Linked DNA regions of Homo sapiens: regions 2 and 3 are each reported to be linked to region 1. The links are microRNA targets in miRTarBase. Many come from high-throughput screens and were not tested one by one. Region 1 holds a microRNA gene; each other region holds the end of a gene's coding sequence.
The links. Region 1 holds the annotated microRNA hsa-miR-6760-5p (CAGGGAGAAGGUGGAAGUGCAGA, at 1,711-1,733, opposite strand). A microRNA usually pairs through its seed, bases 2 to 8, with sites in the 3' UTR of a target mRNA and lowers its output. Matches are read on the target gene's strand: a 7mer-m8 pairs with bases 2 to 8, a 7mer-A1 pairs with bases 2 to 7 and ends in A, and an 8mer does both.

Region 1 (4,148 bases):
ACACGCATCAAAGAGAGACACTCACAAGGACACATCATCACACACAACAGACATGCGCGTGCTCAAAGAAGCCACATGCTCTCATGAGCAAAAACACCCCAGACACACCAAAGACACATTAACAATTATAACAGTAGCATCAAGTACTTAGTGAGCATATACAATGACCCAAGCACCATTTTAGGCACTTTACACATAATCCATTTTTTTTTTCAGAGACAGGATCTTGCTGTATTGCCCAGGCTGGACTCAAACTCCTGGGCTCAAGTGATCCTCCTGCCTCAGCCTCCTAAGAGGCTGGGACTACAGGCATGTGCCACCATGCCTGACTCATGTAATCCTTTTAATAACCCTATAAAGTAGATGTTAATTGTACAGATGAGGAAACTGAGGCACAGTCAGGTTAAGAATACAGTCAGTTGCCCAAAGGTCACAAGTAGAGACACACATACACAGTAACACATTCATAGAGACTCATTCCAATATTCAAACAGAAAGAGAGACATAGACACCTGGGCCTGTATATGTGGGTGTCAGGTGAAGTGAAAATTATGCTCGCAAGTTCAGGTTCATGGGTGGAGAGGGAAGTCACCCTGGAGCAGACCTGTTATTATGTAAGGAATCATGAATCTCACCCCTTGGTATGTAGAGATCTGGAAATAAGGCAGACCAATTCACATAATGAACCCAAGGCTCTCTGGGAGAGCCAGGATGGAGACTGCTAATATAGGACAGAAGGGTAGGTTGGGGTGGCCTTGATGAAAGTCTCTTGTCAAGAAATGACACTAGGACCCCAAAGAGGCACAAACCAGGAGGAAAGAGAAAGATGAATTGATTAATCAGGCCTAACACAAGAACCTCAGGGTTGATCACCGAAGACTGGCTCTTCATAGCATGTGGCTGGGGTGGGAAATCCCCCTAGAATCACCTGGCATGCTTTGGAAACCAATGGCTGAGTATGAATGTTAAATTTTATCTTGGTATGTGGCCCCACTGCAGTCCTGGTGATGACTGCCTGTTGATATGTTGGCTGGCTCACACTCCTAAAAGTACCCAGTTTTGGGACTGAAAACCAGCAGGGGCATCACCATCCCAAGCATGCACAAAGCTGCTATGACCGGTGTTCAACAGCGACACCTGGTGGCAGCCACCAAAACTGCATGCTGCTGTATTGCCTCAAACTCCCTCTCCCCCATGTCTTTGCTGGTGCATCTGGAAATCAGAATGATCTTTGGTCTGAGGAAGTTCCTGGCATTCTTGGATAATTGGGGATAAGGGAGGCCTCCAAAGGAAGATACTGGAACTCCTGGTAATAAAGGGTATATGGAAACGTGGGCTTGAAAAGTAAAGAACTGTAGCTGTATTTTTATCCTCAGCTGGTGTAGCAGGTCATAGTGATTATGCTCACCGTATGCACAGAGACCCACACACATTCACACTCCCAGTTTCAAATGGATGCACACAATCAACCACAAAGTGTCACCCACATGCTGAAACCTGCAAACTCAGCCATTCCCGATCTTTCCCTCTGCCCTCCCTGCTCACTTCCCCAACCCCATCCTTACCCCACTGGGCCCCTGGGGAGAGCAGCAAGCCAGGCGGATGGAGCTGTTGACAGAGGCCAGCTGTTCCCGGAGACTTTCCACCTCCCGCTGGGCAGCCTCAGCTCGCTGGGGAGAAGGGGACAGTGTGGGCGAGAGGTGAGCCCACTCTGCACTTCCACCTTCTCCCTGCACTGTTTCAGGCAGGGGTTGGGGAGGCAGACCTCCGAGGGCCTCAGGTCCTGCCTTCCTAGTCCCGGACCCTGTCCTGGAGCTATGAAGACCAGTCACAGAGCCCTGTCTGGGCTGGGGACAAGAAATAGCAGCCTCTGGGGTTACTCCTGAGCTGAGAGGACAGGAAGAAATGCCCCTCTGAGGAGGTTCTGGGTTCTCGTGGGGTGCCTGGGACCCCCAGAGGAGTCAGAACATTCCTGCTCTATGAAGGCAGGATGAGAGAGGCTCTCTGGGTGGGACTGGCAGGTTTTCACACATTTCTAGATACTTCTGTCTGCCACATTAACTTCAGGCCTGGCTAGTCTGAAGGCAAGAGCTGTTCCAACTCTCATGCCACCTGGTATGGAATGAGTCCCAGACACGGCATCTGCAAAGGTGCTTTCCCAGGCCACAGGTTATTGCAGCCCCTGGGCAAGTCACTTCCTCTCCCTGGGTCTCAGTTTCTTTTCTTTTCTTTTTTTTTTTTTTGAGATGGAGTCTCACTCTTGTCACCCAGGCTGGAGTGCAGTGGCACAATCGTGGCTCACTGCAAGCTGCCCCTCCTGGGTTCACGAGATTTTCCTGCCTCAGCCTCCCAAGTAGCTGGGATTACAAGTGCACACCACCACACCCAGCTATTTTTTGTATTTTTAGTAGAGGTGGGGTTTCACCATGTTGGCCAGGCTGGTCTTGAACTCCTGACCTCAGGTGATCCACCCGCTTCAGCCTCCCAAAGTGCTGGGATTACAGGAGTGAGCCATCGTGCCCAGCTCAGTTTCTCTTTTTGAAATGGGGAGCAATGAAAACATCTAACACAAAGAGGTTTTGAGTGGTTAAAATCAGAATGCAGCAGTTCACTAAACTGGGTCTATGGTCGATTTTTTTTTTTTTTTTTTTTTTTTTTCGAGACAGGGTCTCGCTCTGTCACCCAGGCTGGAGTGCAGTGGTGCAATCAGGGCTCACAGCAACCTCCAACTCCCGGGATCAATTGATCCTCCCATCTCAGCCTCCTGAGTAACTGGGATTACAGGTGTGCACTACCATGACGGGTTAATTTTTGTAGTTTTAATAGAGACGGGTTTTGCCATGTTGGCTAGGCTGGTCTTGAACTCCTGGGTTCAAGTAACCCACTTGCCTTGGCTTCCCAAAGTGCTGGGATTACAGGCATGAGCTACTGTGCCCAGCTGGTAGATTTCTTTTTCTTTTCTTTTTTTTTTTTTTTTTTTAAGACAGAGTCTTGCTTTGTTGCCCAGGCTGGAGTGCAGTGGCACAATCTTGGCTCACTGCAACCTCCACCTCCTGGGTTCAAGCAATTCTCCTGCCTCAGCCTCCTGAGTAGCTGGGATTACAGGTGTGTGATGCCAGGTCTGTCTACTTTTTGTATCTTTAGTAGAGACGGGGTTTTTCCATGTTGGCCAGGCTGGTCTCTAACTCCTGGGCTTAAGCAATCCACCCACCTCAGCCTCCCAAAAGTGCTGGGATTACAGGCATGAGCCACCACACCCAGCTGGTAGATCTTAATTCTTAAAAAATTTCTACCTGGAAGGAAGCATTCAAATGTTAATACATTTAATCTTGTGGCTTTGGAGAGAAATCTGGGCTCACATTCTGACTTTGCAACTTTCCGGTTATGCGATCTTAGGCAAGAGGCTTCATCTCCCCAGCCTCGGTTTCCCTATTAATAAAATGGGGATTATAAAGGCAACTATCTCATAGGGTTGTTCTGCAAATGAAGTGGTTTGGCCAAATGCAATTTGGTAGATATCTTTGCTTGGTGCCTGGCACATATAAATGCATCAATAATTGGTTAACTTTGTTAACATCATGAGGGTATATTACTTGAGCCATTACTTAGAGAATTAAAAGAGCTGTGGCTGTATTTTTGCCTTTGGCTGGTAATGCAGGTCATAGTGATTATGTTTAACTACATAATGACCTGGACAATCAGGATGCTATGCCCAATGTATGCATATTGAGACCCATACACATTCATGTTCACATTTGAATTTATTATTTATTTATACGTATCTTGCCTTGTTCCAGAAATGGTTCAAGTCAATTTTGTTTTGGGAAGAGTTTCCTGGTATGTGGGACTGTAAAGGAAATATTTTTATGTTTCTGTACAGTTAGGGAACCCTGAGCATATCTGATTGAAAGCTGAGATCTGGACTAAAGGACAAGCCTTGAAAATTCAACTCATGGCTGATTAGCTACTGAGAACCCCAGAGGTTTCCTTCCCTGGAGGTTTATGTGTTTAGACATCAAGGGTGGGTGAGACCCACATCATGGAGACAGCCCCTGAACAGTAAAGCTGGGTTTTAAAGCAATTAGCTGGGGCTGGGCATGGTGGCTCATGCCTATAATTCCAGGACTGTGAGAGGATTGCTTGAGACC
Region 2 (4,000 bases), not on the chromosome of region 1:
TTTTGGTAAAGCTCCCTGCCTCCCTTTGCATCAAGAGCACCTTATTCTTTGCAGAGTGCTGTTGTATACACTATGAGATTGGATCCCGATCCTCCTGGGCTGGGTAGATGGTGGTGGAGTGGTTCCTCACTTTGAAATGAGGAACTAAATGAAAGAGCAGCCGAGTAACTTGCCCAGGTGGCATCTCACTGAGGGCTTTAAAATCTCCTTGGTTTAGTTTAGTTTGCGGATACATCTTTTATTTTTGCTTTTTCCTTTTCTCAGAGCTTGACAAAAGATTTGGGAGGCAATGCAAAATGCTCAGACTTCACAGAGGAAATCTGTCGCCGAGTAAAAGATTTAGATTAACACTTCTACAACTGGCATTTACATCAGTCACTCTAAATGGACACCACATGAACCTCTGTTTAGAATACCTACGTATGTATGCATTGGTTTGCTTGTTTCTTGACAGTACATTTTTAGATCTGGCCTTTTCTTAACAAAATCTGTGCAAAAGATGCAGGTGGATGTCCCTAGGTCTGTTTTCAAAGAACTTTTTCCAAGTGCTTGTTTTATTTATTAAGTGTCTACCTGGTAAATGTTTTTTTTGTAAACTCTGAGTGGACTGTATCATTTGCTATTCTAAACCATTTTACACTTAAGTTAAAATAGTTTCTCTTCAGCTGTAAATAACAGGATACAGAATTAACAAGAGAAAATGTCTAACTTTTTAAGAAAAACCTTATTTTCTTCGGTTTTTGAAAAACATAATGGAAATAAAACAGGATATTGACATAATAGCACAAAATGACACTCTTCTAAAACTAAATGGGCACAAGAGAATTTTCCTGGGAAAGTTCACATCAAAAAGAGTGAATGTGGTATATTTCTAAATGATATGGAAAATAGAGACAGATTTGTCCTTTACAGAAATTACTGAGTGTGAATAAAAACTTCAGATCCAAGAAATATATAATGAGAGATATAATTTTTGTTAATAAGACAAAGGTAATATATTGGATACAAAGACACAAATGTATTGTGTGTTCAATTATTTTGTTGTCTTGAGATTTAATATTCTTTCCAAGAGCTTTTAATGAAGCAGAGAGCTAGTACTTCATTTTCACTGGATACATTTTCAGCATCATGAGTTGTCACAGCCTCTGAGCCCCTGATCTGAAGCCAGAAGGGCTGAGTGTATTGTAAACTTATTCTTGCATGTTGCTGTCTGGGAATGGACCACACTACAGCAGGTAGTTCTGGGGGCGATACTGCCGAAAGGCCCGAACACATGTATTTTGGCTGCAATTGAGGAACTTGGGATGCTATTAATTTTGTATTTCAGCAACTGCCCCTTCTCCTATCCCAAAGCACCAATTACTGCCCTCTGCCTCAGCAGTACCAGTATAAGATGACATTCCAAAGACTGGAGGCAACTCAGCCTGAGTTAATTCACAAAATTATGCCATGCTGGGGCTTGAGCTTGAGCTTGGGCTTAGGCTTGGGCTCAGCTTTTGACCCTCAGGCATCTCCTTTCCCTTCCTGTCTTCCTCTCCCTTCTCCTCTGCTGCAGCATGATTTTCTTAATCTTCAGACACTCACTATTTTCATGAACAGTTACCCTCTGTCCCCACAACCAAAGACAACTCATGGCCTCCTTTGGCCCTTGTGTAACATTGCAAACCTGTGGCTTTGCAAAATGTACCCAGGTCACAAGGGGATTTTTTTTTTTTTAGCAATGATATCCCTGTCTGGGTCACTTTTTAAGCTTGTAACCGCCCCCCCAGACTTATAATCTTAAATGTATTTTCCTTTGTTTAAGCTGCTGCTTCCTCTGTTTCATTGGATTGTGCCAGTTATCAGTGGCTCTTGGGTTCAAAGTAATAAAGAATTCCAAAACTGAGATGTTTGCTTTCTCTACCTGTTTCCTGTTCAGATGCCTTCGGTCATTTTGGCTCAGCTTGCTACTGAGAATGGCTGCTTCCCGTATTCAGAATGGAAGTGGGGTGGTCTGGTGGCGACAGGCTAACGTAGAGCTGGCTGCTTTTATGAGAATGCGCCACTTGACCCCATCCTGCACCTTTGTTTATTCCAGGGCACTAATGGTCACTCGCATGCCCGCTGTGCACAGTCCTGTGAGTTAAATGCCCACTACTCTCTGCACTGGTCCCACCTGCTCAATTGACAAAAAAAATCAGGTCCTTGTTGACAGTTCTGTTAAAAGGTTTAATATTCAAATTATACATTAAATAGAATCAAACAGGCAGCAGCAGTTTTATTAAGCATCAAGTCAGTTGGCATGTGGGTGGCGGAGTGCCTGGTAATGGAATAATAGGGTCGGCGATGCCCGCCAAGATTCCAGAGTAAGTCAGGTCGCTAGGTGAGTTGTGACTGATTGCTTTTCCTGCAGCGCACGTGAGCAGTATCAGCCATCTCTCTCCTACCCGCTCCACAGCCTACTGCTGGCTGTCCTGTATGTGAGCTAGCAGCTTTTTAATCTACCTGGAACTAAGGCCAAAAATTATCAGCCCTTTCGTTCTGGAAGGAGAGCTGATCTCATTTGTCACCTGAACAAAAAGCAATACTTAAACTGAATTAAAACTACCCACACGTGAAGCTTCTTGGAATTGTCAGCTATTGTTGGCGTAAGACCTGGTAAATGTAGAGCCAGTGCTGTGCCCTGACCTGGAGATCTAACAGACTTGGCAGAAATGCCTGTGCCCAGACTGAAGAGACCTGGGGCTCAGGAAGAGGCTCGGAACGCCTGCCCTCTATTCTATAGAAACTGCAGGCATAGGCCCTGATTACATTTTTTGCTCTTGGTAAAAGGAGTCAATGATACCTTTGTACTTCTCCAAAACTGTGAGCCGTTTCAGTTTCATCGTGGGACCTAAAAGGGAAATGAGAAGAAATGAGTGAGGCCCAGGCTCTGAGAACTCTGAGAATGTGTGTGGTAAAGACTCACACTCAGTCCTATATATAACTCAGGAATTAAGCCAGATAATCAGGACCGTCAGTAGCCAGCCTCCAAGACAGTGATCGCTCCTGGTATTCATATGGCTTGTGTGTAGTCTCCTGTGTTATACCACTGGTTGTGGCCAGTGGAGTATAGATGAAGGGTTGGTATGTCACCTCTGAGAATAGGTTATAAAAGATCAGTTTCTTTTATACACATAGGAAAGTAGTGTAAGCTACATCTGCCTTTTCCTTGACCTGTACCCAGTTTTGACCCTCAGTCCATTTTCTCTGAAATGGATTTATTTGTTCCATCTCTTGAATGAATAAATTGTTGAAGCAATTAAAAAATAGACTAGGTTTCTGTCTTGGGCTTTCTCTTGGACCATTCTTCCTGGGCAAGCCGGCTGCCATGTTGTGAGGATACACAGCCCATGAGAGGCCCACTGGCCACACACGGATGTTTCTGGCCAGCAGACAGCAAGGAGCTGAGGCCTGCCGACAGCCACGTAAGTGAGCGCGGAGGTGAGCCTCAGCTGCAAGTGACTGCACCCAGCTCACATTGACTGTAATCCCGTGAGACCCAAGCCAGAACCACTCAGCTAAGCTGTTCCTGGATTCTTGACCCATAGAAATGTGGATAATAAATGTTTACTGCTTTAGGCTGCTACATTTTTGGGGTCATTTGTTACACAGCAATGTATTAGATAGCTAGTACACATCATCTCTGCATTTTTGTGAACGTTTATACAACGTTGGACATTATGCTTTGATGGTTGTGATGGGGGTAGGGGAAGCCCAGGTTATGGGGAGCCTCTGCCATGGTCTTTATGAGAGGTCTTCCCCTAATTACTTTTCTTAACCTTGATTTATCCCCCAAAAGCAAGTTTGAAAGAGCTCTGATTTGAGGTCCTGGGTAGCTTAAAGTGCCTAACTCACTCTTGACTGTGTAACTGGAAACTTTCTGTGTTAAAGTCATTATATTAACTGCTTAGTGAAGACATCTTCTGTCTCTCTGACCTTGCGTTCAATATGCTGGCAGCAGACAGCCAGATAAGCTCAA
Region 3 (4,000 bases), not on the chromosome of region 1:
TCCACCTCCCAGGTTCAAGCCATCTTCCTGCCTCAGCCTCCCAAGTAGCTGGGATTACAGGTGCTCGCCACCACACCCGGCTAATTTTTGTATTTTTTTTTTAGTAGAGAAGGGGTTTCACCATGTTAACCAGGATGGTCTCGAGCTCCTGACCTCAAGTGATGCACCCACCTCGGCCTCCCAAAGTGCTGGGATTACAGTGCCCGGCCCAGGCAGGACTATTTTTAAGACAATTGAGCATGATTTTAGAAGGCTGCACAATTGACATTTTGCCTACTTCCACGTTTCGGTACTTTTCCTGAACAATGTTTCTTCGTTCCCCCTCTCCTAGTAACGGACATTTACGTTGCTCTGATTCTCTGCCATCCCAAGCAGCACCATGAGGAACAGCGCTATGCAGGACCTTCTGCGGATGCACCTGTGCCAGTCTGTCTGGCTGGGGCCTGCACACTCCGAGAAAGGACTGTGCACTCTGAGGAAGGACTGCGCAGTCTGAGGAAGGGCTGAGCACTCTTGTGGAAGTACCGCCCACTCTGAGGAAGGACCGTGCACTCTGAGGAAGGACTGCGCAGTCTGAGGAAAGGCTGCGCACTCTCGTGGAAGTACCGCCCACTCTGAGGAAGGACTGCTAGGTTGTCTCTCTGGAAAGTTTTCTGTTGCCCATGCGGAGAATATTCAAGTTTTGTTTCGGCCTTCCAGAATTTCCCTCCTGTTTGGGGGGGATCATCCTCCACTCCGTTATACAGCCTCGGAGGCAGACACCACTCGTCATCGGATGTCAAACCAAAGCTCCCCCAGGCTTAGCAGGTGTGGGTGCAGGAGGGTGCGGGAGTCAGATCTCCATCTATCTGGTCTCGCCTTGTTTCTAGTCCTTTGCAGGGGTGTTCTTCCAGCATCCTCCAATCCATCCGGGACTGTCCATCTTGAGTGACACAAAAGAGTGGGGCAGGACAGCCTGGCCGACTGTCCCTCCGAGACCAGACACGGGGTGTGTGTGTGTGTGTGTGTGTGTGTGTGTGTGTGTTGGAGGGGTCCCCAAAGGGGCACAGAAGTCCCGGGAGGCTTTTCAGAAGAGAAGAGATGGAGCCTGAATGGGCAAAAGCAGCAGCTGTGCTGTTAGGAGCTGGAGTGAATACTGTGAGCCCAGACACCTGGGATGAGATCCACAGATGTGGCCCGGTCCCTTACTCTTTTGGTGCCTCAGTTTCCCCATCTGTACCATGGGGATAACAACAGTGCATGCCTCATCGGTTGGTTATGATGATAAACAAACTGGATTTTAAAAAGGTCTGGCCCAGCAGACTCACTCTGTGTTTGCTGTTATCAGAACCCTGTCCTCAGACCCTGGCCTGACACCACCTCATACTCCCTCTCATGCCTCTTAGTCACTTCCTGAAAGTCTGCAGCAGACGACACGGCTTCTCCCAGCCCGTCTTCTTCCCCACACGGTGGGCATGGTAACGTCCTTAACATGCACCTGTCAGTGTGAAAGCAGCAGGCTGAGATCACACACCAAGTTCCCGTAAGTATTCTGCATTCATTACCTTATTTTTCTTTTGAGACGAAGTCTCGCTCTGTTGCCCAGGCTGGAGTAGGGCAGTGGTGCGATCTCAGCTCACTGCAACCTCTGCCTCCTGGGTTCAAGTGATCCTCCCACCTCAGCCTCCGGAGTAGCTGGGATTACAGGTGTCCACCATCATGCCTGGCTAATTTTTGTGTTTTCAGTAGAGTCGGGGTTTCAGCATGTTAGCCGAGCTGGTCTTGAACTCCTGAGCTCAAGTGATCCACCCACCCGAGCCTCCTAAAGTGTTGCGATTACAGGTATGAGCCACTGCACCCAGCCTTATTTAATTTTCAAAAACAGTCCCTTTTCAGGAGGGGCATTACTACCAGTCCTGTCTTAGGAGGTGGGTGCTGAGGCCTGTGGTCACTTGCCCTTCCTGGATAGCCTGGCACCTAAACCCTTCCCTGCACTGTTGAGTCTTGAAGGCAGACCTAGACTCCAGTGATGTGCACTGGACCGTCCAGGTGGCTGTTTCCAGATGCCCTCGCAGCCCGGCACAGGCTGTACCTGCCCCAGCCCTTGACACTGAGCCAGAAGCTGAAGCAGAGAGCAAGGCAGTGACCGTGGGGGGGCTTGGACGCAAGGTGGTACCGTGGCGGGCTCAGCCACAAGGCGGCAACCATGGAGGGTTTGACATAGAACCCCTCCCAGGCTCAGGCGCTGGGCACACAGGAACCAAAAGGACCAGGGTGAAGCCAGCCCCAAGACTGGGCGGCAGGGGAGTGGTCAGACCAGCGCTCTCATCCTACGCTTTCCAAAGCCCGGCAACTGCCCTTCATCCACCCGGCAGAGGCTACAGATTTCCTCTCTGGAGAGAAGGAACCGGGGTTGCTCGCTGAGCTGACAAGAGGTGGCATCCTGGAAAGATGCAGCTGGCCAAAGCCTGCCCTCCATACGGAGTCCCCCCCTCGGCCAATGGCTCCAGCTAAAGGTGAGAGAATTCCTTGCGTGGCAGAATGGGCCACCCAAGACCTACCAACACTGACACTCAGGACCCCAGTCAAACAGAGTGGCCTTAGCAAGGGAGGTGGGTGCCATTATCATCACTTGCGGATGTGGAACTCATGCCCAGAGGGTATGACCAACCTGTAGGTTCCCAGCCAGGAAGCTGAAGGGCTCAGATGCGAACCTGACTCAGTGTGGCACTCGGCAGGTCCCTTCCAGGAGCCTCATCCCTGCCTCCGTAGGATGGAGGTGGGGACAGCCCTCCTGAGGACACATTTCCTGCACTGCCTCCCACAGCTGTGCCCAGACTCCCAGAGCCTCTCTCATGCCAAGAGAGTCTGTGGTGGGAGCCAAGACAGCTGACCCCAGAAGCCCCGGGCACCCCAGACGCTCGGCCCTGGGAGGGTGGCTGTGCCGGACAGACTCCAGACAGAGCTCAGACTCCGGGTCTACACACAGTGACTTTATTACTCTATGGATGCTGGTGAACTGCCCTCCCCAACCAGCTTCACGGGGGCAGGCATCTCTGTCCATCCCATGCCTTTGGGTCACAGGGGGCAGCAAGACCAAGAAGACCACAGCCAGGCCCTGGGTTCAGCTTCAGAGCCATCACCCGCTGCCTCCCCCAACCCCCAATCTCCTGAGGGAGGAGAATTCCTAGGGACAAGACCCAGACCCCTTTCCTTCAGCCTCTGCTTCACCAAGGGGGCCTGGCCTGCGCCCGAGCTCCTCCTGGCCTGCCCCTCAGGGGTCCCAGGTCCTCACCTCTGCTCTTCAGGCAGGAAAAGGGCAGGGAGAGAGGAATGGAGGAGGGAGAGGGAGGCTGGGCCGCAGGAGAGAGAAGAGGGGGGAAGGAGGAGACATTAGGGAGAGGCCCCTTCACACAGAGAGAGAGGCCGAGAAATCAGGGAGAAGGGGGGGGCTGAGGTGAGACCTGAGAAGGAAAGTGAAATTTGGGGGAAAAGGAGTTGGAAAGGAATAGGAAGGCGTTGGGAAGTTCAGACAAGGGAGGCGCAGGTGGAGGAGGACGATGGGAGGGAAGGAGGAGAGGAAGAGGCCAAGTGGCGCTGGGAGAGAGCAGGTACCGCCCGGGGGCAGCACCAAGGGCGGGAGATGGCGCTGGCCGGGAGGCGGCTAACCCAAGGGCCAGGGCGGGAAGGGGCCTCCACCATCCGGGCCCGGAGCTACCGCCCCCTGCGCGCTGGCCGCTGCCCGGCCGTGGATGCGCTGGTGGCGCAGCACGTGCTCGCGGCGCCCGAAGCCCTTGCCACACTCCCAGCAGGCAAAGGGCCGCGCTCCCGAGTGCGTCTTGCGGTGGCGCACCAGGTGCTCGCGCCAGTAGAAGGTCTTGCCACACTCGCAGCACGCGTGGGGCTTCTCACGGGCGGGCAGAGGGCGCAGCGCGGGCCCGGGGCTGCCGGGGCTGCCGGGGTGCGTGTCGCGGTGGCGCCGCAGGTGCTCCTTGCGCCGAAAGGCCTTCCCGCACTCAGG

Region 2: the mRNA of IDH3A is a reported target of hsa-miR-6760-5p. Seed matches in the 3' UTR shown: 7mer-m8 at 1,534-1,540.
Region 3: miRTarBase lists ZNF444 as a target of hsa-miR-6760-5p. Seed matches in the 3' UTR shown: 7mer-m8 at 3,416-3,422, 8mer at 3,374-3,381, 7mer-m8 at 3,320-3,326 and 7mer-m8 at 3,301-3,307.

Annotation. Positions count from the first base shown.
Region 1 is chr12:111,301,732-111,305,879 of GRCh38, reverse strand. MIR6760 (microRNA 6760) reads right to left here and starts at 1,738; the gene lies at 1,671-1,738. It overlaps CUX2 (cut like homeobox 2), which reads right to left. Exons shown (of 22, transcript NM_015267.4): 10 at 1,566-1,670. The region is part of intron 2 of LOC105369983 (a long non-coding RNA gene); the gene reads left to right.
Region 2 is chr15:78,168,658-78,172,657 of GRCh38, forward strand. It overlaps IDH3A (isocitrate dehydrogenase (NAD(+)) 3 catalytic subunit alpha), which reads left to right. Exons shown (of 11, transcript NM_005530.3): 11 at 265-3,288. The coding sequence ends at 348. ACSBG1 (acyl-CoA synthetase bubblegum family member 1) reads right to left here. Exons shown (of 14, transcript NM_015162.5): 14 at 1-2,872. The coding sequence ends at 2,787. Among named protein-coding and RNA genes, the nearest start is that of IDH3A, 21 kb to the left of the region's middle.
Region 3 is chr19:56,159,845-56,163,844 of GRCh38, reverse strand. It overlaps ZNF444 (zinc finger protein 444), which reads right to left. Exons shown (of 5, transcript NM_018337.4): 5 at 2,952-4,000. The coding sequence ends at 3,644. Among named protein-coding and RNA genes, the nearest start is that of GALP, 14 kb to the left of the region's middle. RefSeq lists an enhancer at 1,301-1,400.